2 separate regions of the Homo sapiens genome follow, and region 2 is linked to region 1. Evidence: fine-mapped expression QTL. A gene starts in region 1. The other region holds a variant in brackets. All regions are shown on one strand. Distances are between the middles of the regions.

The links.
Region 2: its variant is fine-mapped to the expression of VILL in lymphoblastoid cells (GTEx, PIP above 0.99).

The regions. Positions count from the first base shown.
Region 1 is chr3:37,985,612-37,997,764 of GRCh38, reverse strand. It overlaps VILL (villin like), which reads right to left and starts at 6,979. Exons shown (of 20, transcript NM_015873.4): 1 at 6,936-6,979; 2 at 4,033-4,178; 3 at 3,793-3,867; 4 at 3,299-3,504; 5 at 1,918-2,026; 6 at 578-688; 7 at 80-282. The coding sequence starts at 4,092. RefSeq lists enhancers at 1-152, 2,864-3,481, 3,513-3,807, 4,673-4,967 and silencers at 3,517-3,966, 10,602-10,779.
Region 2 is chr3:37,920,628-37,932,780 of GRCh38, reverse strand. All of the region lies in intron 1 of CTDSPL (CTD small phosphatase like), which reads right to left. Among named protein-coding and RNA genes, the nearest start is that of MIR26A1, 43 kb to the left of the region's middle. The variant T/C (reference allele first, on the strand shown) is at 6,615.

The sequences.
Region 1 (12,153 bases):
ATGCCGTGTTATTGCAGTAGTGATGGACACAGAGTCCTGGACTGTCCCACCCACCCCTGCCCACCCCAGGGGTACTCACTGGTACAGGCGAACATTGGCCTTCTGCAGCTGGTTGATATCCTTGCTGGGCGTGGCGGCACGCAGGCTGCCCACCCTGCGGCCCAGCACAGCCTCCATGATCTGCATGAGGTCCGGGGCTTTGGCCTCATCATCCACCACACCAATCTGTGCACGACCACCACCACGTTCCCTGTCCCGGAGGCTGTAGGTCAAAGCCAGCCCCTGCGGGAGAGGACCTGGGAGTCAGGGTGTCACCAGTGTGCCCTCTCACAGCAGAGACTTCTCCTGTCACTGCTCAGCTCCCAGAGGCTGATGGGGAGAAGGGCTGATGTCCCCTCATCCTGGCATCCAGGGGGACACCAACAATGCAGGGTCTGAACTCAGCTTGTAACTCATAGGCGTTTCTTGGGTTGTAGCAGAGCCAAGCCCAACTCTTTGGGTGGCCGGAGGATGGTCAACTGGAGGATCATTCCCCGCCCAAGCCCCGTACTCCCCAGTTCCTTGGGCAGACACTGACCCGAGCCTTCTCAGAAATGCTGGTCTTGGGCCCATTCCACTGAATCATCATCTTGCCTAGGTCCAGCAGGAAGATGTCACCCTTATTAAAGCTGTTCCAGGAGAGCTCCACCTGCCAGAGCCAGGGAGAGAGACAGAGTGTCATACCACCAGCATCCGCTAGAGGGGAGCATAGCTGGGATGTGTCACGTGTGCATGAAGCTGTATGCAAACTGGGTGTACGTAGGCATGTGTGACTGTAGATAATGCTGCATTCCACAGGGTGTACATGACTTATGACACTTCTCACTCAGTGCATGTCTGTTGCTGTACATGTATACATGTACACATGTATACAGGTGGGGTGTATCTGTTTATCTTTTGTGTGTGTGCATATACACATGTATGTATATGGGGACATCACATGTGAAGAAGTGTGCTTATGGTGACAGTGAATACCTATGGATGAAGATAGTCTCCAAACGGACACACTTTTGAGAGTAAAAGGGAGTACTTTAGATAATTATGCCAGGATAATAGGAGAAACATGGGGCTTCATGGTGTCCCTGAATGACCAGAGATGTATGGTCACTGGGTCTGTGGGTGACATGCAGAGCCTATGTGGGATTGTCTCTGTGTCACAGGCTGCCTATGCAGACTCACTTGCATACCTCAAGGGTTACCATTCACACTGTAGACGTTGTACACCTGAATGTTCATTACACCAAATTCTGGCCAGATGGCAGCAAAATGTTTTGTTCTAACAAAACCAGTATTTTCCTGTAATTTCCTGACAGATGGAAGAAAGGGGCACTGTTCTGATTTGCACAAGGGCACTCTATGGACCAGAGGAGCACCCGGGGATAACAGTGGGAGACAGTGTGTGTGCATATAGGTGACAATGACAATGTGTGTGAGAGAGTGCGAGGTTATGCACCACCTCTCACTGTGCTGCTAACAAGGACCATTCACAGGCGCCATATCATCTGCCCCATCTGCCCAAGTTCTTTTTTTGTTTCAGAGACAGGGTCTTTCTCTGTCACCCAAGCTGCTGGAGTACAGTGGTGTCATCATGAATCACTCCTGGGCTCAGGCGATCCTCCTGCCTCAGCCTCCCAAGTAGCTGTGCCCATGTTCTCAATATGTCCCTGAGATAGACGCATAAACAAAAGGTCCGGGGAGCAGTGGCAGAAGTGGGGCTAGAAGCCTGGTGTCCTCTCTGTTCTCCTCATTCAAGACCATCTGGGAATGCTGACAGCTCCTTGTTCCCCACAACCCCAGCCAATTTCCAACCTCCTTATACCTCAGTACACCCAGTCTGAGCCGAGTTCAGAGGTCAAGAGGCTCCCCTGGCAGCCTCACCTCAGTGGCAGACACGTGCTTCCTCCCTTTGATGTGCAGCAGTCGCTGGATGTTGAACAAGTTGGTCTCCACATGCTTGAGGTCAGATGCTAGGCCTCCCTTCCTGTAGCTGAGGTGGGAATAGCAGGAGGGTATATACATTCTGTGTATATAAGAACACAGACTGCCATGTGCATGAATGACTGCAGATGTGAGCACGTGCACGTATGTGCCTGCTTCATACATGCACTGGAGTCTGTGTGAACACATGTATGTATAAGTACATGGGTGCACACATAGGGCATGAGTGTGCATTCATTTCCATGTGTAGTGCACTTCCATGCGTAGTCATGTGGACACATGCATATATGTGTACATGTACATACATTTGGGGGCACACTGTGTATTTGTTTATCCCTGTAAGTCTAGATGGTGAGTGCATGAAGGTGGGCAACAGCATATATGTGTGTAGGTGAACATGGATATTCACACATGTCCATCTATAGGTGGACATACATGAGGGTGGTGTGTGTTTCTGCATCTGCGCATATGTTTGTGTGCATGTGTTCATGTATATGCTATATGCATATATAGGTTCAACTGTATGAAATGGAAATGATCAAATAGCAATTTCCTATATTTCCAAATATATTGCTAGTGTTAATTTAAAACACCTGTGAAGCAATTTACAGCGAAAGATATATTCCTACCAGCACAGTAACATAAAAGCAAACTCAAAACAACATTGGTGTCTGCTCCTAGGTATATACCAAGGGAAATGAAAACATTTGTCCACACAAAAACTTGTATACAAATGTTCATAAAAACAGATTCATAGCAGCCAAAAAGTGGAAACAACTCAAATGTCTATTAAGTGATGAATGGATAAATAAAATGTAGTATATTCATAAAATGCAATATTACTTGGTAATAAAAAGAAGTAATAACACATGCTACAACATGGATAAACCATGAAAACAGTGTGTTAAAACAAAAAGATCCCGTCAGGGAAGACCATTTGTTGAATGATTCTATTTCTATGACATGCCCGGAAGAGGCAAATGTATAGACAAAGCAGATGAGTGGTTGCCTAGGGCAGGGGATGGGGGTGTTGGAGGGAAATGGGGAGTGGTGGCAAAGGGGTATGGGGCTTCTTTTTAGGGTGATGAAAATGTTCTAAAATTGTGGTGATGGTTGCACACAACTGTTAAAAATCACTGACATGTATATGTACTTTAAATGGGTGAATCGTATGGCGTATGAGTTGTATCTCAATAAAGGTGTTACCCAACCCCTCCCGGCTTGCCCCATTCAGGGATGTGGACGATGGCCATCCCAAGACTGCCCCAGCCAAGGCACCGCCTCCACGGCTCCCTCCTGCCCCGGTCGCCCCCGCACTCACATGATTCCCGGGCGGAAGTAGCTGCAGAAGCAGTCGGACTCGTGGCCCTGCGCCTCGCGGTGCAGCACGGTCTGGCCCCCCAGCTCGTCCTGTAGGCGCTGCTGGAAGGCCTCCGCAGCGCCCTGCGCTTCCGCACCCGCCTGCTTCCCGACCCAGTAGTGCAGGTCGCTGGACGCCCCCTGCGTGGCCTTCGGGCTCTGGGGGACCTAGGGTCCGGGTGTTTGTGTATATGTGTTGCGGGGAAGACGGAGGTGCGGGTGGAGAAGGGGAGGATGTACCAAGGGCCATGGGGAGACGCTAGGCAGGGGCTTCCGCGGAGATCAGGAAGTGGGAGGGAAGGACTAAGAAGCCTCAACGGTAACCGCCCCCTTGTGGGATGTGATTCTCCGGCTCTCAACTTGCCGCTTCCCAGGGCAGAGTTTATGCCTGTGCCTCAGTCTCCCCAGTGCCGGGCCATGCCACCCCTCTCAGGCAGACTTCCCCAAGCGACTCACGTGGAGGATGACATAGCAGTGTTCCTCAAAAAAGTTCCCGTAAGCCCCCTCGGGTACCGGCACCATCTTCCGGTTCTGGGAGAGGAGAGTTCCCTGTAACAACTCAGGAGGCCTCTACCCATGACACCCGCTGGGGTGGGGTGGAAGAGGACGCTCTGAGTTGGGGGCGGGAGAAGCCTAGTGTGGAAAACCCCACGCTCTTCCATGTCACCAACTCTCCTATTTGGTCGTGCCTCTCACCTCAGAGATCCATATGTGGAGGCCTCCCTGCATGCCTGGGAGGCCCTTGCTGATGTCCATCGCAGGCCAGGCAGGAATATGGGACGACACAAGGAACAACAGCCAGAGTTCTCAGGCTGGAGACCGACACCTGGCTACCTGTACAACTTCATTATAGAACATGACTTTTATTAGGAGGGCTCTGTAAACACACAAATGTCAGCACACAGACTATGAAGACTCAGATTCTGCAGCAAGTGACAGGCTCAGCTGATATGAGTGGGTTGGGCAGATTAGGCATAAACACTTGACAATTTTTTTTTCCAGTTTTTTCGAGACAGGGTCTTGCTCTGCCACCCTAGCCTGCAGTGCATGATTCGAACACACTTCACTGCAACCTCCACCTTCTGGGTTCAAGTGATCTTCCCGCTTCAGCTGACAAATTCTTGAAACAGAGCTGAACTCTGTATAAACACAGGCTCTGCAAACAGCCACAGGCTCTGCAAATAGCGATTTAGCTTGCTCGAGTCTGTGCTCTGTGGTTCTGCGCGTGCAGAGAGGGAGAGAATGAGAGGGCAGTGAATGACAGTGACATGGAATGAGAAGTACCTGGGGGAAGGAAGGGACCCTCACTTCTGTCGATTTTGTTATGTCTTGGCACTTCATATTCAATTACCTGAGGCTTCCCTGCACCACTCCTTCAGAAACCTGTGTGTGAGGTTTGGTCCAAAAGTCACTTCTTTCTGAATCTCTCACTCAGGGTGACCCTGGTGTGTTAGTCCTTCCCTCCTCCCCCTCCACTCCCACTGTGTCTTATCAATAGCAGGAACACCCTTGGCTCCAGGCAGAACAAGGTGAGGGGACAGAGTTACAGAATCAGGTGTGGCACAATAGGTGTCATAGAGTGGCTCACATTCCTTACACCTTTGTCAGGGCCCCTGGTTTGGCCCTGGTGAGTTCACAGTACACTGTGGCAACACCCAACATGTAGCCAAAGAAATGTGGGAGCGGAGGAGGCTGTGGGGCAGGGGAGCAGGGGCAGAGTGGGCTGTCCTTCTAGGGGGTTAGAGCTGGGTCCGTCACAGCTCACAGCTCCTCCCGACACCCTATGGAAACCATAGGATGGTTGTTGGCTATGGTCTCCCTCACCAGAGCAGCAGATTCCTGAAGGCAGGGGTTTGTCTTGTTGTTTACTGTGGGATCCCAGCTGCCCGGCCCCCAGCAGGTACTCAGTAAGTACTTGTTGAATGAGTGAAGTGTGCTGCCCTGCGACTGGACTGAGTGAAAATGAATAGAGAAGGGAGCCGTCCGTGCACCCTAATTGCCCCAAGAACTGTTGCCACAGTTGATGGCCTGTTGGTGTGACAATGACATGAGTGACAGGCAGACATAGTGGCCATGAAAAGGTGATCTCAAGCAACAGAAAACGTGAGGACATTGGGTGACAAGCAGGATGTCCACCAGTGGTGGCCCCGTAGAAGGACACTGAGTAATAGGCAGAAATAGTGACCAGTGACAGTTACCAGAGGCCCAGGCAGGCAGTGACCAGAGGTGCAGACAGAAACTGTGAGCTGTAGCTCATGGAAGAGTACAACATGGTGACAGAGTGCCAGAAAGACTACTGGATGGCCTCAGAACAGTGTCAACCAGGGCACATGGGGGACTGGAAAGTCAAACTGGCAGCCAAAAAGTTGGGACTCGGCTGGTGTCACTGGGAGAGGCAGCATCGCCCCCAGGGGTCCGGGAGCCCGTCTGATATCCAGCCCCAGCCCGTAGAGCCAAGCCCTCAGCTGCCAGGGCTGAGGTCGCACTCGCATGGCACCTGTGTTCATTCTCTTTCACCTGGACTCCAGGGAGGAATGGGTGCTCAAAGATTGGGGGCCTCCTCCCTCCCCACAGTGCCACCTCCAGCCTCCCAAGCCCTCCTGCCCTCTTTCCTCAGGGGAACCCCCCACAGTGCCCCCTCCAGCCTCCCAAACCCTCCTGCCCTCTTTCCTCTGGGGAACTCCCTTTCACCACCTTCCCAAGTGGGAACCCTCCTATCCCTGGTCCTCTCCCTTCTCCTAGAAGCCCTCCTTCTCTTCCCTGGGGGTGCACTTCCTCCACTCAGGGCCCCTTTCTCTTCCGGATGCCCAATTCCTTCCCTGGTTTCCCTTTCTCTCCCCATGCCCCACGCCTCCGCTTTTCCAGGGTTTCCCTCTGTCCCCACTGGGTGCCCCTGCCTCCCCCTGGTTCTTCTTTCTCCCCTCTGATTTCCCCTCTCCCCTGGGATCCTTCCCTTTTTCTCCCATTTTTCCTCCCCAGGCACCTCCTCCTTTCCTGGTTCCCTGTCTTCCCCTACACCCCTCCCTCTCTCCCTCCCCACCCTCCTCCCCAGGTCTTTCCTTCTCTTCCCCAGGCTCCCCTCTCTTTCCCGGGGCACTCCCTACCCGCTTCACACACCCCCTCTTCTCTCCCCCTGCCCCTCGTGTCCCTGGGTGCCTCCTCTCTCCTCGCTTTCTCCCTCCTCCAGTGCCTCTTTCTCTCCCTACAGGAGCCCTTCCTTCTTTTGTGGGTACCTTTGAAGGGAGCCCGAGATTACCTTGCTCAGTTTCCATGGAGCAGGGAGTGGTGCCGCCCTCTAGAGTGAGGGGAAAGGAGGATGGGGCCAGGGTTGGGGGCAGGCACACTGAATTTGTGGGCCACGGACTTCCCTGCCCATCTACAAAATCTGCCACTTTCTTCCCCTTGGGCTGCCGGCCACAGCTGCCCTGCCCCATCAGTGTTTTCACCTGCTGGGCTGCTGCCGCCTCCCAATTCTGCCGCGGAGGCTCTGTGGCCCTGAGCCCTGGGACCCTATGCTCTATGCCCTTGACTTGAATAGCCCACTCTGCCCCACTGGTTCCCTGGAAACCCCCGCCCCCCAACTCTCTGCCCAGGCCTACCTGCTGGAAACTGCTCCCGCGCCTTCGCCCTGCCTGTGGGCAGTGCTAGGCCTGGCACGGGGCCAGTCTCTGCCTCCCTACTCCTGGTCCCCACCACTGTAACTCAATCCTAGCTCCTGCCCTGCAGGACACACCCCACCACACAGTGCTCAGCGGGCTAGGCATTCACTTAGTCAGCCAGTCAACAAATATCGAGCAAGCCGTCGGGACCAGCGCCCTCCCCAGGGCTATGGTTAAGTCTCCCAGGTCTCACTGCCTGGGTACCAGTGGCCAGAGAGAGCAGGGGATGGAGGCCTGGACTGGGCTAAGAGGTGGGGTGTGGAAGATACTGGGATTTCCTTCTCTGGAGTACTAGATGGGCCCCTGATCCCTCACCCGGAGTGGTGGGCTCCGCCTGGACCAAGAGGGCCAGGCCACTCCAGCAAACTTTAGGAGGAAGTAGGACCAAGGCTGGGGGCTGTGGGGTCAGGCTCTGTGAGACCCAGCTCACTTCAGGAGGGGAAGGTGGTCAGGGCTCCCTCTAGATATTTCTGCTGTCCCTACCCAAATGTGAGCTCACTGCCTGGCACAGCCCTCCTCAGGGAACCCTGATACCCATCATGGGAGAGGCCAGTCCAGCTCTTGCAGCGAAGACACCTCTCCCTCACCTCAGCTGCCACTCCACTGCCACTCTCTCTCTCTCACTGTGGGGTGGAGGGGCTGCAAACAGAGCCTTCCAGAAACTCCAGGGGCACAACCTCCTCTTGGCGGCTTAGGGCCTCAGTCCCAGCCAAGGCCCAGCCAGCGTGGGCCATCCCATCAAAGCCACGCTGCTAAAGCCTGCCCACTGCCCAAGACCCTCTCCCTGTGTTCAGTCTTCACCCCACAAAGGTCTCTGTTACAGGGGTCTGGGGACTTGGGGACTCGGGGGCAGTCTGTGTCCAGCAAGACCTACAGCTAGTGTGTGACTGTGTTTAACAGACACAATGCAGGGTCCCTGTGTGTGAAGGGATGCCTGTGTCACAGGCATTTGGCTCGTCCCCATGTGTGCCATTGCCTGTCCGACCTCATGTGTGTGCCTGTATCCTGGCATGTCTGTCTGATCCCCACTTGGGACAGGGACCCTGTCTGTGACAGTGGCAGTGTGTCCACTGTACCTGTGCATACCCGTTTCCCTGTCCCTTTTTGTCTCTGTGCCCAGGAAGACTCTGTGTCCTCACTTCTTCCCACCGACTCTTCCCCCATCTCCCCTCAGCCCACCCGCTCTGTTTGTTCTTGAATTCCCTGGCAATGGCTCTTTCCTAAGTCACCAATGCCCGCTGTCAACCAAGCGGCAGTCAGTTCAGTCACCATTGTTCCTTCCCCTCTCACTCCACCTGTCTCCTTCAGGCCTCTAAATGGCAGCAGGAGCAGAGCTTGGGCCTTCACTCCTGTTTGTTTTCCAGTTTCCTTCCCAGTTCCAGTCTGAAGGCTGCAAATAGCATGGAAACGCCAGTGTCTCCCTGACCCAACTCCCCCGAACCTTGCCCCGGCCTAAGTCTCCATCTTCCGTCTGTCACATCTCTCCCAGCACGTTTGGTCTCACATTTAACATCGCCTCAGGCCCCTCCCAGATCTACCCTCTCTGAGCCCCAGGAACACGTTCAGTGTGAACATCCAGAGGGTGCTTAGGCCCCAAACCTGGAGTTGCCCTGATTTCTCTCTCCCGCAAGCCACTGGCCCGTCGGCAGCTGGTTCATGGTGGATCCTGGGCCTGGCCCTCCCTCTCACGCCTCCTGCCTGCTCCGGAGCCAGCCTCCCTCTGTGTCTCTGGGTCTGCCTGGCCGCTACGACCATCCTACCACAGTAGCCAGAGGGATCTTTTTTCCTAAGATTTAAAAAAATTGTGGTAAAATATAAAAAATCTTTTTTTCACAAGATTTAAAAAATTGTAGTAAAATATACTTAAAATTTACCATTGTATCCCCTTTTTATTTATGTATTTATTTGAGACAGAGTTTTGCTCTTGTTGCCGAGGCTGGAGTGCAATGGCATGATCTTGGCTCACTGCAGCCTCCGCCTCCCGGGTTCAAGTGATTCTCCTGCCTCAGTCCCCTGAGTAGCTGGGATTACAGGCATGCACCACCACACCCGGCTAATTTTGTATTTTTGGTAGAGACGGGGTTTCACTATGTTGGTCAGGCTGGTTGCGAACTCCTGACCTCCAGCGATCCACCGGCCTCAGCCTCCCAAAGTGTTGGGATTACAGGCGTAAGCCACCACGCCCGGCCTGTATCCACTTTTAAGTATACGGTTCTGTGGTGTTAAGGACACTCATATTGTTGTGCAACCACTGCCACCATTTCCAGAACTCTTTCATCTTACAAAACGGAAACTCTGCAACTCTGCACCCATTAAACATAGACTCCCCATTGCCCCCAGCCCCTTGCAACCACCATTCTATTTTCTATGATTTTGACTAACTAGAGGGAAAATTCAACCTCAGAATTTAACCATAAACCCGCTCACATCACCCCCCTCCCCAAACCTTCCAGTGGCTTCCACTAAAACTGGGATGAAACTCTCAATGGCCGTTCCCGGCTGCCTCTCCCATCACTCTCCCCATGGCTTACTGTGTTCTGGCAATATGATTCCTTGTGTCCCTTGAAGACGCCCAGGTCGTTGTCTGCAGACCTTTGCACTGCAGGCTTCTCTGCCTGGAAGCCCCACTCTCTATATTCCCGTAGCTGCTCCTTTACTGCATTTAGGTCCCAGCCAAAATGGCAGCCCCACAGAGGGCCCTTCCCGCCCTCCTTAGCCACAGCAGTCTCCCTCCTCAGACATCACCACTTTCCTCATCGTGGTGCTCCAAGAAGCTGGTCTCTTTGCTAAGTGGGATCTTTGGTTAGTGTCTGTGTCCCAGCTGGACTGTGAGTCACTGTGGGCAGGGCCTTGCTGTTGTCCACCTGTGTCTAGAACGGTGCCTGGCGCACTGCAGTTGCTTAATAAAACGTTTGCTGACATGTTTCTGTGGCCTGCGCCTGACCCAGTGTGTGTGTGTGTGTGTGTATCTGGACCCTTTACTGGGCTCAGTCCTCCTTCTCTGAGAAGCTGAGGGGGTGACCCCTTTCCACTTTGGTTGTGGGCCAGATACCCCAGCTGGCACAATCCAGTGTCAGCAGCTTAGTGGGGGGCATGAGAACTTCTCCAAGGCCCCAACCCTCGGAATTGTCTGGGTCTCTGCAAACCAGAAGATGTCACCTGGAGAGAACTGCCCTGTCCAGAACCACCTACTCTGTAACCTGTGATCCCAGGCCCAGGATAGATGGCAGTCTGGCCTTAGAGCCTGGCCTGGGGCCAAGATGAGCAGCACTGCCTTGAGTCTGGCCTGGACAGCCTCCGGCTCATGGCTGTCACACCCCAGGCACACAGAGGGGAAACTGAGGCCCAGGGCAGGCTCACAGGCAGCTGGGTGCTGCAAGAATGGGAGGGTGGGATGCCTAGCCTTCCCCTCCCTCCTCCCCCTAGCAGGAAAGGGGTCCCACCACCCCATCCCCATCCCCACCTCCACCCCTCTTCAAGGGGGCCTGCCAGGAGTCAAAAGGGCCCTGGGCAGAGTTTGCCTTGCTAGCAAAGCCCTGCCCTCTTCCTGCCCCAGCCTCCCTTCATCTACCACCCCCTCACTCATCAAGTTTCCAGGGCTTGGGGCCTACTTTGTTCCTGCCTGGCTTATCTCCAAGGCCCAGCCCGCTCCATGTCAATATTGACCCAGGTGAAGGAGTGGCCCCAAGATAAGTCCAGGCTCCGCCCCAGTTTCTCTGGGCTCAGGCATCCTATCCCAGGCTTCATCCCCCAGGCCTTCTCCAGTCTTTCCCAGGCAGGTGCAGAATGTTGCCTCTCGTGGTGGAGTCCGGGCTCTGTGAGGAGCGTCCCTCTCTGAGGGCAGACAGGGATGGGGAGTGAGAACTGTTGACTCAGGTCCTGGAGCCCACTCCTGGAGATGCCCTGGCTCCTTGCGCTGGAGGGGAGCAGCCATGGGCCCGCATGTGTCCCCACATCTGGTGGTCCCGCCCTGGGCTGCAGGATGTGGAAGGAGCTGTGGCAATGGTCACTGGAGCTTGCATAGGCTGGAAGTGACTCCTCCCGAGGACACCACGGGAACAGCTGGGTGAGAGGACAGACCAAACACCAACCCTGGGCCCCTGCAAAGAGGTGTCACTGCCTTGCCCACTGTGGTCCTGCCCAGCAGCACGCCCACCCATTAGGACCCAGCTTGGGTCAGGAAAGCCCTGGCCTGTTGGAAGGGTGGTGGTGCAAGGCTGGGGTCCGTGCCTAGTGGGCAGTGTGATCCTTCCAATGTGTAGTGGGGGGCTCCACTCTGCTCCCCACCTGTGTGAAAGCAGGTGCTGTCAGCCAGGCAGGGGTCTCACCAGGCCTCCCTCCTCACCCCTGCCTTGGGAAAGGCTCCCAGTGCCCAGGTGGGCTTTTCTCTGTACTTTTCTGGATTTTCCAACTTTTTAGCAATGAACATGTATATGGCTGATCTTTCAGGTAAAGCAACACGTCATTTTCCCCAAAGCTCTGGCCACAGCTCCTTTGCCACACCTGGGCATCAGGCCTGGAACAGTTTCGGAGGACTTGCCTTTCCTCTGTAGCCAGTCAGAGCAGGGGGTCTCAGCCCTGGCTGCCCTTTCCAGTCATCTTGGCACTTAAAAACATGACGCAGGTCCCCATATGCAGAGATTGGAAATGGTCTGTGGTGGACTTGAGGGATGTATGTTTGAGACCCCTCAGGTAATTCTAGGGTACAGCTTCAGCCAGAGCTGAGAATCACTGCACCAGGAGAGGGAGCTGTAATGGAGGTTTGAGGTGGAAAGCTCTGGGGCCATGTCCTCCTCCCGATGGCCTCTGTTCTCAGAGGTCAGGCTGGTGGCCATGCCAGTTGATGGCTCTGGGCCTTGAACAGTCTGCTGACCCACAGCCAGCCCTGACACAGGAGATTTATCGTGCAAGCATCCAGGTTACTCCACAACTCGGCCACAAGCCCTCAATGCACTCCTTATCCATAAGCTCAACAGAATGTTCGTCAGCTGATGTGCCACTGTTCCCAGGCTGGCTTTTCCCAGCCACTCCTTCCCACCCTCCTGGGCTTCCTGCCCATTCCTTGGTCCTGTAATACACACAGATGATATGTGCTCAAACTAGAAAACACGGAAGGGCATATCTCAGCATGTCCAAGTCCCAAATAAGTGCCCTCTTG
Region 2 (12,153 bases), 65 kb after region 1:
TCAAGCCTCTTGATACCTATGGACAATCTGCCACCTAGGAAGGCAGTGCTAGTGTACACTCCCACCCATGGGGTGTTCCACTAAAGCTGTGCCAATAGAAGCACTGATGCCAAGACAGAGACTTAATGGCCTTTGCCAGTCTGAAAGGTAAAAACAGCAACTCCGTGTTGTTTTAATTTGCATTTCTTTGACTGCCATCCCAGTTCTACATCTCTTTTGTGCATTTTGGTCATTTCTATTTCTTCTTTTGAGAACTCTGCTTATATACTTTTTTTGCCCATTTTTCTATTTTTTCTTTGATTTATAAGAGTTCCTTTGTCATATATCAGCAACATAATCCCTTGACTGTTCTGTATGTTGGAACTGTTGTCTCAGTTTGTTTTAGGCCTTTTACTTTTGTTTATAGTTGTTACGGATCTGCAGAAGTTTTAAGCTTTTAGGAAGTCACATCTAAAAATCTTTTTTAAAAATGGTTCCTTCTCATTCTAATACGATATACTATTCACTTATATTCTCTTCTAGTAAATATCTTTTAAAGTAAACATTTAACTGTTTGGGGTTTGTCCTGGTATACAGTAGGATGTATGAATCTGCCCTTTTCCTCCAAAAGATTAATCAAATATCCAAATATTTACTGAACAATTTATCCTCATACAGTGATTTGGTTATCCTGTTCAAATCTATCCTGTTCTCTTCCATTCCATTCTCCTGCTTGTGCCAGTAAAACACAGCTTTGCTACTGTAGATTTATTGTTTTATGTTTAATAGTACTAGTCTCCCTTTTACTTTTTTTTCCAAAAATTTCTTGGCTAGTCTAACACTTTACACTTACAAATGAATGTTAGAGTCACTTTATCAAGCCCTAAAACATACCATTGGAACTTAGTTCTATCAACTTGTGGAACACACATTTACTAATTCTAGTTTAATTCTTTTTTAAAGCAGTTAAATAAAAGTTAAAATGAAAAAGTAAAAAAAAAAATTGTTATAGCTTAGACCTAAAAACTGTTCCAAGATTAAGATTGGCCCTGTTTATCAGCTGAAAATTGATTATTATTACTACAAAATGTTTCATGTAAGCACTATAGTAACCACAAAGAAAATACCTATAGGAGATAAAAGAAAATGAGAAAGGAATCAAAGCATGTCACTACAAAAAATTAATGAACCACAAAGGAAGGCAGAAAGAGAGGAAAGAAGAACAAAAGAACTGTAAGATAAATAGAAAACAGTTAACAAAATGGCAATAGTAAGTCCTTTCCTATCATAATTAAGCACAAATGGATTAAACTCCCCAATCAAAAGACACAGAGAAGACACAGAGGGGGCTGGGTGTGATGGCTCACATCTATAATCCCAGTGCTTTGGGAGGCTGAGGCTGAGGCAAGAGGCTCACTTGAGGCCAGGAGTTTGAGATCAGCCTGGGAAACACAGTGAGACCCCATCTTTTAAAAAAACTAAAAAAGTTGGCTAGTTGAAGTGGAGTGCACCTGTAGTCCCAGCTATCTGAAAGGCTGAGGTGGGAGGATTGCTTGAGCCCAGGAGTTCAAGGCTGCAATAAGCTGTGAGTGCACCACTGCACTCCAGCCTGAATGACACAGTGAAACCTTGTCTCGAAGGAAAAAAAAAAAAAAAGACAAAGAGGAGCTGAATAGAGGGGGAGAAAAGCAAGACCCAATTATACACTGACTAAAAGAGACTCACTTTAGATTTAAAGACACACATAGGCTGAAAGTGAAAGGATGGAAAAAGATATTCCATGTAAACGGAAAAAAAAGAGAGCAAAAGTAGCCATACTTATATCAGACCAAAAAGACTTTAAGTCAAAAAGCTGTCACAAGAGACAAACAAAGATATTACATAATGATAAAAAGGAGTTATATGTTCACCAGGAAGATATAACATCAGAGCACCCAAATACATGAAGCAAGCACCGATAGAAATGAAGAGAGAAATAGACAGCAACACAATAATAGTAGATTTCAACAATGGTCAACAAGGAAACAGAAGACCTGAATAACACTATAGACCAAATGGACCTAAGAGACACAGAATATTCCATCCAACAGCAGTAGAATATGCATTCTTCTCAAATATGCAAAATACTCTCCAGGATAGATCACATGTTAAGTCACAATACAAGTCTTTAAGAATTTAGGAAGAGACTAATTATCTAAGTGTGGTGGCTCATGCCTGTAATCCCAACTTTTTGGGAGGCTGAAGTGAGAGGATTGCTTGAGGCCCAGAGTTCGAGACCAAGCCTGGGAAACACAGCAAGACCTCATCTCAATAATAATAGTAGTAGTAGTAGTAATAATAATCATAATAATAAAGAAAAAGGAAAAGAAAAAATTAGCTGGGCATGGTGGTGTGCTCCTGTAGTCCCAGCTAGTTGGGAGGCTGGAGGCATGAGGACTGCCTGAGCCTGGGAGGCTGAGGGTGCTGTGAACTATGATTACACTGCTGCACTCCAGCCTGGGTGACAGAGTGAAACCCTGTATCTAAAAATAAATTTAAAATAAAAATTAAAATTTTAAAAGACTGAAATCATACCAAGTATCTTTTCTGACCATGAAATGAAACTAGAAATCTACAGAAGGAAAACTGGAAAATTCACAAATACATGGAAGGTAAACACCATACCCTTCTTCTTTTTTTTTTTTTCTTTTTTTTTGAGACGGAGTCTCACTCTGTCACCCAGGCTGGAGTGCAGTGGTGCGATCTCAGCTCACTGCAACCTCCACCTTCCCGGTTCAAGCTATTCTCCTGCCTCAGCCTCCTGAATAGCTGGGATTACAGGACGCACCACCATGCCCAGCTAATTTTTGTATTTTTAGTTGAGACAGGGTTTCATCATGTTGGTCAGGCTAGTCTTGAACTCCTGACCTCAAGTGATCCACCTGCATCAGCCTCCCAAAGTGCTGGGATTACAGGCGTGAGCCACCATGCCACTCTTGCCATTTCTACTGTACACATTATGGGAAATTCTAGTCAGGGCAATTAGACAGGAAAAAGATATAAAAGGCATACAAATCAGAAAGGAAGAAGTAAAAATATCACAGCGACATGATCTTATATGTAGAAACCCTAAAGAGTCCACAGAAAAGCTGTTAGAACTAATCAATGAATTCAGCCAAGTTGCAAGACAAAAATCAACATGCAAAAGACAGATCTGCTTCTATACACTGACGATGAATAAACCAAAAAGGAAATTAAGAAAACAATCTCATTTACAATAGCATTAAAAAGAATAAAATACTTAGGAATAAACTTAACTAAGGGGGTGAAAAATGTGTACACTGAAAACTACGAAACATTGCTGGAAGAAACTAAAGAAGATCTAATAAATGGAAAGACATCTGTGTTCATGGAGTGGAAGACCTAATATTGTAAAAATGTCTGTATTACCCAAAGCAATCTACAGATTCAATGCAATCCCTATCAAAATCCAAACGGCTTTTGTTTTTGTTGCAGAAACAGGAAAAACAATCCTAAAATTCATATGGAGCCACAAAAGACCCTTAATAGCCAAAACAATCATGATAAAGAACAACAAAGCTGGAGGCCTCACACTTCCTGACTTCAAAACAAATTACAAAGCTATGGTAATTAAAATAGTATGGTACTGGCATAAAGACAGACACATAGACCAATGGAACAGAATAGAGAGTGCAGAAATAAACCTATGCATGTACGGTCAAATGATCTTTGACAAGGATGCCAAGACTGCACAATGGGGAAAGGATAGTCTTTTCAAGACATGGTGCTGGCAAAATGATATCCACATGCAAAAGAATGAAGTTGGACCTTTATTTTATGCCCTACACAAAAGTCAACTCAAAATGGATTAAAGACTTCAGCATAAGACCTGAAACTATAAAAAGCCCAGAAGAAAACACAGGGGAAAAACTTCATAACATTGGTCTTAGCAATGATTTCTTGGATATGACACTAAAACCACAGGTAATGAAGGCAAAAATAGACAAGTGGCACTACATCAAACTAAATAGCTTCTATGCAGCAAAAGAAACAGCACAGTGAAAAGGCAACCTAAAGCATGGGAGAAAGTATATGCAAACAATATATCCAATAAAAGAGTATCCAAAAAAATATAAAGAACCCTTACAATGCAGAACGACAACAAAAACCAAACCACAACCCAAATAACCTGATTAAAAAACGGTCATTTGCAACCACTGAAGTACAGAAAAAATAAAACATGGGCAAAGGACTGGCATAGATATTTCTCTAAAGACATACAAGTGGTCAACAGGTATATAAGAAGGTGCACGACATCACTGACCATCAGGGAAATGCAATTCAAAACCACAATGGGATATCACTTCACACCTATTAGGCTGGCCACCATCAAAAACAGAAAAAGAAAAATAAGTTTTGCCTAGGATGTGGAGGAACTGAAATGCTTGTGCATTGTTAGTGAAAATGTAAAATGGTATAGCTGCTGTGGAAAACAGTATGGAGTTTCTGCAAAAAGTTAAAAGTAGAACTACCATGTAATCCAGCAATTCCACTTCTAGGTATTTATGCAAAATAACTGAAAACAGAATCCTGAAGAGCTATTTGTACTCCATGTTCACTGCAGCACTATTTACAATAAACAACTGAAACGTCCATTAACGGATGAATGGATAAAGAAAAAGTGGTCCATGCATACAATGGAATATTATTCAGCCTCAAAAAGGAAATAAATTTTGACACGTGCCACAGCATAGATGGAGGAATATTATTCAGCCTTAAAAAGGAAGGAAATTGTGACATGTGCCACAGCATAGATAAAGGATATTATACAAAGAGAAATAAGCCAGTCACAGAACAAATACTGTATGATTCCACTTACATGAGGTATTTAATGCAGGCAAACTCACAGAAGCATAAAGTAGAATGGTGGCTGCCAAGGGCTGGGAGGAGGGGGAAATGAGGAGTTACTGTTCAATGAGTCTAGAGTTTCAGTCAATGAAATAAAAAAATTCTAGAGATTTGCTGTACAACAATGTACAATATAGATAAGACTGTACTGTTCACTTAAAAACTTAAGAGGGTAGATTTCATTTTTTATATATATATATATATATATACACATACACACACACACACACACACACACACACACACACACACACACATATATTTTTCTTTTAACCACAATTAAACAAAAAAAGACTGGCCTTGGGAGAAGCCACAATTACTGCTGACGGAATGCCTGCTGTACTCATGCCAGTGGCTCACATGCCAACCTTATGCAATCTTCATCACACATGGTACCCTGAAGATCCCTTATCCAAAATGCTTGGGACCAGAAGTGTTTTGGTGTTCAAATTTTTTCGGATTTTGGAATATTTGCACATACATAATGAGTTATCTGGGGGATAGGACCCAAATCTAAACATAAAATTCATTTATATTTCATATATACCTTAAACACATAGCCTGAAGGTAATTTTACACAATATGTTTAATGATTTTGTGCATGAAACAAAGTTTTGACTTTGACCCACCATCTTTGAGCACCTTTTCATATACCTGTTGGTCACCTGTATGTCTTTGGAGAAATATCTATTCAAGCCCTTTGCCCATTTTTAATTTTTATTTTTTCTATTCTTCAATGGTTACAAATGCCCATCATGAGGTCAGGTGTGGAATTTTCCACTTGTGGCTTCATATCAGCATTCAAAAAGATTTGGATTTTAGAGTAATTGGACTTTGGATTAGGGATACTCAGCCTGTACCATTACCCCCATTTTACTGGCCAAGATGTGACCAAGAAGTGAAGTACCCAGACTTCGCCCAATGATGCACTAAGTAGTAGAACTGGAATTTGAACTCAGGTTTGTTGGACTGCAAAGCTTATAGTTTTCTGCCTTCTGTCATTATGATCATCGTCCTGTGGGATATCTTTCCCACCCGCTCTGGACTGTGAGTGACCCAAGTGGAGGAGCTTGTTCACTCCTGGCTCACTATCACTATTGCCTAACACTGAACACTGCAAGCCTCCTCCAGATAATAAATGCATTTGCTTCTTATACTTATCTATGGACAAAAGCCACAATTCAGTGATACAATTCCTCTAAAATCTGCCATAATTGTATCAAACTTCTTCCCATGATGTTTAATTAGAATGATTTGTTAAAGTAGTAAGCCAGTTCATCCAGAATATTCCACATTAGTTTTGCAATGAAAATGTAACCATATCTACAGTCTGCTCTCAAACCACTGACACCAAAAACTGGTTCACAACTGAATAAAGGAATAATCACCTCCAAGAATGCCTCAAGAGTCCTCAATAATCCTTTTCAAAGGACTGACATCACCTAGGCCAAAAAGAAAAATAATTCCTTAATAAGTAATTTATTTGCTAGCACTGACCCATGGCCCATGGTTGGGGCAGGAATGAAAAAAATAACGGTGTTTCTCATGTGGGCTGGAAACCTACGATCTTACCATCTACCTTAGCTGTTGCCCTCAGTTCCCTGGCATGGCTTTGATGAAGATCTCTGACTAGCTCCTGCTGCTCTGCTCACTTGGGCTCTGCTAGTATTTGCCCCACTTAATTGTGTGGTACCTTTTAATTTCCCTTTGTCAGCTGGCCTGCCATC[T/C]CCTCTGTGACTTTCCCATGGCCTCACAGACCTCTCCCCAGCTACCACAGATCACCCCATGTAGCAGGAATGCCAGCCCCTAAAGGGTAGTGAATTCATCCAACACTTGCTTATTTGGCATTTACTATATGTCAGCTACTGTGGAATAGATAAGTGAACAAAACTTAAAAAATTCCTGCCCTTATTGAGCTTAGATTCCAGCGGGAAGAGAGACACAATAAATAAACATGTAAAATATAGAGTACGTCACACAGTGTTAAGTATTGTGGATCAAAGCAAAGCAGGGAAGAGGTTAAAGAGTGGTGTGTGTGTGTGTGTGTGTGTGTCTGTGTGTACTGGAGAACTGTCACCCGTGCGAGAAAAGTGCTTCACAACTAGTGCATCTCTTCCATTCCTCCTTTTCCCATTCTCTGTCACACACCCTCCACTGGCTTCCACATGTACCCCAACAAGCATCCCTTCTGCTTATCTGCTCTGTTCCCAGGTTTGGGTATATACTTTGTGAGCCCCTTTGTTCAAAATGCAGGGCCTTTGTTCAAAAAGTAAGAAGGTCAGGATGGTAACAGCAGAGTATTAAAACAAGTTTGAGGCCTCTGCAGGGCATACGTTGCAAGCCCAGGAAGACAGCCCTGCTTGTTCCTATTCTACCCAAGATGATAGGTGAAGGCAAGGCCCTGTGAATGCAGGCCCCACAGCCTCCAACAAGCCCCAGCGGGAGGAGAAGGGTAGCTGCTGCCACTGCTACATTCTACAGAAAGCTCAATGAGTCCGGGTAGAGGAGAAAGACAAGCCCAGGAACCAATGCTTGGAGGGTATGCCTTTTACAGGAAAAGAACAGCTTCTAGAAGGGGGAAACCTGATGCCAAAAGGGAGGGCTACACAGAAATGTCTCCTGAGTACCTCCTTTGCACTAGACATTGAGGGAAAGAGACAGTGATGGATGGTGCAGGCAAATATTCAGAGGGGTCAAACAAGGCTTCCCTGGGCAGGGCAGACTTCTGTTGTGGGGAGAGAGGATGGGGGCAACTACAACTGAGCAAGGAAGGATGGACAGAGGGGACAGGGAAGGATGTTTATGAGGGAGAAATGGAAAGTTACAGGAGGCAATAAGGAGGACAGTTTGGCTGGTGGCAGAGGATGTATCACTAGGTGAGACCAGAGTGGGGAAGGGCCTCTAGCCTGAAAGCAGTTGAGGGAGGGGGTGGTCAGTGAATGCTTTGAGGAGAAACAGGGACAGGATGAGAGCTGTGCTCTTGGAAGACCTGTCTGGTGGTGTATGAAGGACAGACAGCAGGCTCAGAGCAGCATCTAAGGAGAGGTCATGCTGGTGAGGGCAGGACAGCGAGAGCCTACCAAAATTAGCTGGGTAGAGCTTTCCTACCATCGGCACTGGGTCTGCACAGATGAGCAGACGTGAGGGAAGGTTTAGATGCACATTTCCAAGCAAGCAACAACACATAAGAAACTACATATCCCTGAGACAAAGTTCTCCGGCAGGATGCCCCAAACCACGTGCATTCCACAGAATCCCTAATTTTAGAAACCAGACTGGAACTTATCTTACCAAAATAAACGTGGCCCCAAATATTTACTTTTGTTATTTTCTCGTTGTGGAGGAAGGAAGATCAATATGGACCTCAGGACATTTTACATGTTCCTCACAAAGATAATTTCTTAGGGTGCCCTCTTGTACACCATTGTTGGAAAAGCTGGCAATTATAAAACAAGGAAGTCTCCCAGTAAAAGTAAAAGCTTTTGGCATTTTTATCACACATCATTGTTTTTCAGTTTCTCAAATATCAACTCTGGACTTCATAACCCTTCGATTTCCTTGTACACGTGGATAAAAAAAAAGTCTTCCAATTGTGGGACAGTAACCATAATGAAGAGAAAAGCAAATGGCAGCCCTAGAAAAATTTATTTTCATCATATAAACAGGACACACAATACTCTTCTCTCTTTAGGCCGAATAATGTTAACAGCCTTAGTTTGAATCATCATAAACGGAATTCTTATCTCAAGAGTTTTAGGACGAAGAAACTCTCACCTTGGACCGGGTTGAATGCCATACGGCAAGAGGCCTGTTGTCCTCACTCCCAGTTTTCAAACATAGAAACTCTTCTCTGTTTCGTTTTGTTTTAATGAGAAGAGTAAAATAGAAGAGTTTCTGCTTGCAACATTCTGCTTCAAACAGGCATCAGCTCTCATGCATACTCACAGATGTTTTGGGATTAATTGTGAAGATGTCATCCAATTGTATGTTTGTGTTGTTCCCTTCCTGCTATCATGGCTCTGATAGCCTAAATGAGTGATTTAATACTGTGTGAATTTTGCATTGGTTTATAAGTGTGTTGTTTCATTAAAAAAAAAAAACAGAGAAAAGCAAGGAATACTTAGAAAGCTTCTTTGTATCAACTGACAGTTAATCATTCAGATGGAAATATGCACGTTAAAATGTCATTGCTGACAGCCTATAGTTTTTAGCTGTACAATTTGAATTCCCACAACAGTATACGGCTTTATAAGATATGTTTAAGAAATGCTCTAAAGTTATTTGTTCCTTAACCTGGAATTTTATAGGGTATATAATAACTTTATAAATGGAAAAATATTAACAAATGACCCTAAGAAACCTCTCTTGATAAAATTGCATAAACCACATATTTCAAAATAGACACCACACGCTGGGGACTGAACATGGAATAAGAAGTACCATGTGATTCTTCCTACACAGAGTTCCACTCTGCCAAGATCAGATATTTTAAGAACGCATTTGAACTATCAGTTGGGATGGCAGTTCTGTGGAAGTCTTCACAGCATTTTCAGGGTTTCCCAAAAGAAGAGCTCAAGGCTCCTCTCTCCAGCTGACTACTTCAATGTCACTCCAAGAACACCAGAAATGTGGATACCACCCTCAGCTTTTCCTCCTGCATCTCCTACAGCCAGCCAGCTGCCAGGCCCAGGCTCTTCTCCCCATATGCTCAGCAGTCATCCTGTCCCACGCCACTGTCCCTCCCTCCACAGAACCTTTGCAACAGTCTGATTACAGGTTTCTCCTCCCCTAGAACGATCTTTTCTGAAATGCAGATGTGGTTAGGCCCCCTTCCTGCTTACAGCCCCTCGGTAGCTCTACATGGCTCAGACTGGGTTCTTGTCATGTTACACAAGATAAGGTAACACAGGGTAGTGAAGGAAGCTTGGTGAACTCACCCCTTACTGTCCCCAGTGGAAACACTGCCCTGCTTGTCAAACATCCACAGGCCAGAATGCCAAGCCTGTGGGCTCTGAGCCTGTGCTGGACTGCAGCCTTGAAGGTAGCCCTCACACAGAAACACACTTAGTGCTTCAGACCAGGAGTGGCAAGGCCCTTGTTGGTGACTCAGCTGTGTTCCCAAGCTTCCCTTGCCAATCCCTTGTTTGGAACCTGGAATGCTATTTCCCACAAATATCATGTAATAAGGAGTGACAAAGTGCCCATGCTAGCCCATAAGGGCTGATTTAATCCATACCTCAACAGAGCCACATTTGCAAGGAAAAAGAATGGTGGTCTGTTTAGTAAAGACTTATCTGGCATCTAATGTAAGGAAGCCTGCTAGCTGCTTTAATAAAAAGACACTCTGAGCTGAGAAGGGAGAATCTCCCCATGGAGTGGAGCAATAGGAGATCCTGGCCCAATTGTTGTCCTGACATCTATCTTCCCATTAGGAATCTTACTGGTCACTCCTGTCCCTCAATTGGGGGCCTCAGCGTACTGCTTCCCAGGTCACACAGGCTCAGTCTTGGGACAGGCCCTGCCTTCATACTCCACAGCACTGCAAGCCTTCTGTTTGAGGACAGCATTCAGGAGTCCAACTCAGAGAGTAACTTATAGGGGCTGCTAGAGGTGGCTGCCCTCAGGCTCCTCTGTGTGGGTACTCTTTTTTTTTTTCCTTGAGACAGAGTCTTGCTCTGTTGCCCAGGCTGGAGTGCAATGGTGTGATCTCGGCTCACTGCAACCTCCACCTCCCAGGTTCAAGTGATTCTCCTGCCTCAGCCTCCTGAGTAGCTGGGATTATAGGCATGCAGCACTACCATGCCTGGCTACTTTTTGTATTTTTAGTAGAGATGGGGTTTCACCATGTTGGCCAGGCTGGTCTCGAACTCCTGACCTCGTGATCTGTCTGCCTCGGCCTCCCAAAGTGCTGGGATGAGAGGCGTGAGCCACCGCGCCTGGCCCTATGTGGGTACTCTTTGGGGGCTGTCCCAGTTATTCCTCCTCCCTGCAAGGAGAAGTCTTCATTCCCCATGACCTGGGAAAAAGTCTTCAAGTGCATCTTATTCTGCAGAGGCAAGGCCCAAGACAACAGGAACCAAGAGAAGAAACAGTTCTCCAGCCTTGCCCCAGGATGACCAGCAGTGGGAACACCACTTCCTTACAGGTGGTCTGGCCCCTTACCACAGGGATGAAGCCTCATAGACCTCAAAGAGTCATAATAGTTCAATATCAGCACAAAAGCTGCATATACTGTTTGTGTTTGTGTGAGTGTGTGTGTGTGTGTGTGTGTGTGTGTGTGTGTGTGGTAGTTAGGGTTGTTTCTTATATCGACCATCTTCCAGGTGCTGAACTAGGTACTGGGAGAAAAAAACAGTTACATAAGGAAAAAGGAACTGTTCCTGTCCTCAGGGAACTCTCAAACTAGGGGGAGGAGACAGATACACCTCCGACGACCTGCAATACAGTCTCTAAAGTTGAAGATGGCTATGACATGGGTCGAACAAGTCTGGCAGAGCAGACACTTGTCCCTTACATCCTTTGGCTCCTTGTCCTGACTGTGGAGGAGACAGGGGCCGCTGCTGTGAAGGCCAGCCAGGCACAGCCAAGGCCTGCTCTTTAGATGGGGCAGTGGAAAGATCTGGGACACCATCCAGTCTCCAACATCCTTTTCCTCTGGCAAGTCATTTAGCCAGTCAGAAGCTAGACTCTGTTACCTGGGGGGAAAATGGCCCTGTGCTGCCCGCTGCCAGAAGATGTGAGGAAAAGATAAAACGATGCATAAGAAAGTACTAGGAAAACTGTCATGGGCAGAGGCAGGGGAGGACTGTTTCTCTGCTCTTCCTCTCTGGACTCCCCTCTTTCTCTCCCTTGTCATGAATGCGCTGACCTATTGAGGCTCACAGAGGCCCAAAAGACCCGGGTTCAAACCTACAGGTGATAGAAAGGGCTTGGGATGGGCTGGACCCTGGCCCATAGGGCTGAGGAGTACAGGGGAAGCAGGTCTCACAGGTGGTTTGAGAGCAGGGAAGAACCAGAACTGGGATGAATTATTAGATCCTCTTAGACCTGAGTGAGCAAATCAGACCAAGCCATTTGCCTCATGCTATACAGCAAGTGAAATGCATCCACATTACATCCCCTAGAGCTACTGAAAGCACTACTATGGGTGAAGGTGGAAGTATGCGCTTAAGCCAGACACTGTTCTTCCCTAACAAAAGGTCACTTTTTGAAAATCCTACTTTTTAGAAGGATGTTCGCAGACTGAAAATATCATTAGTGCCTGGC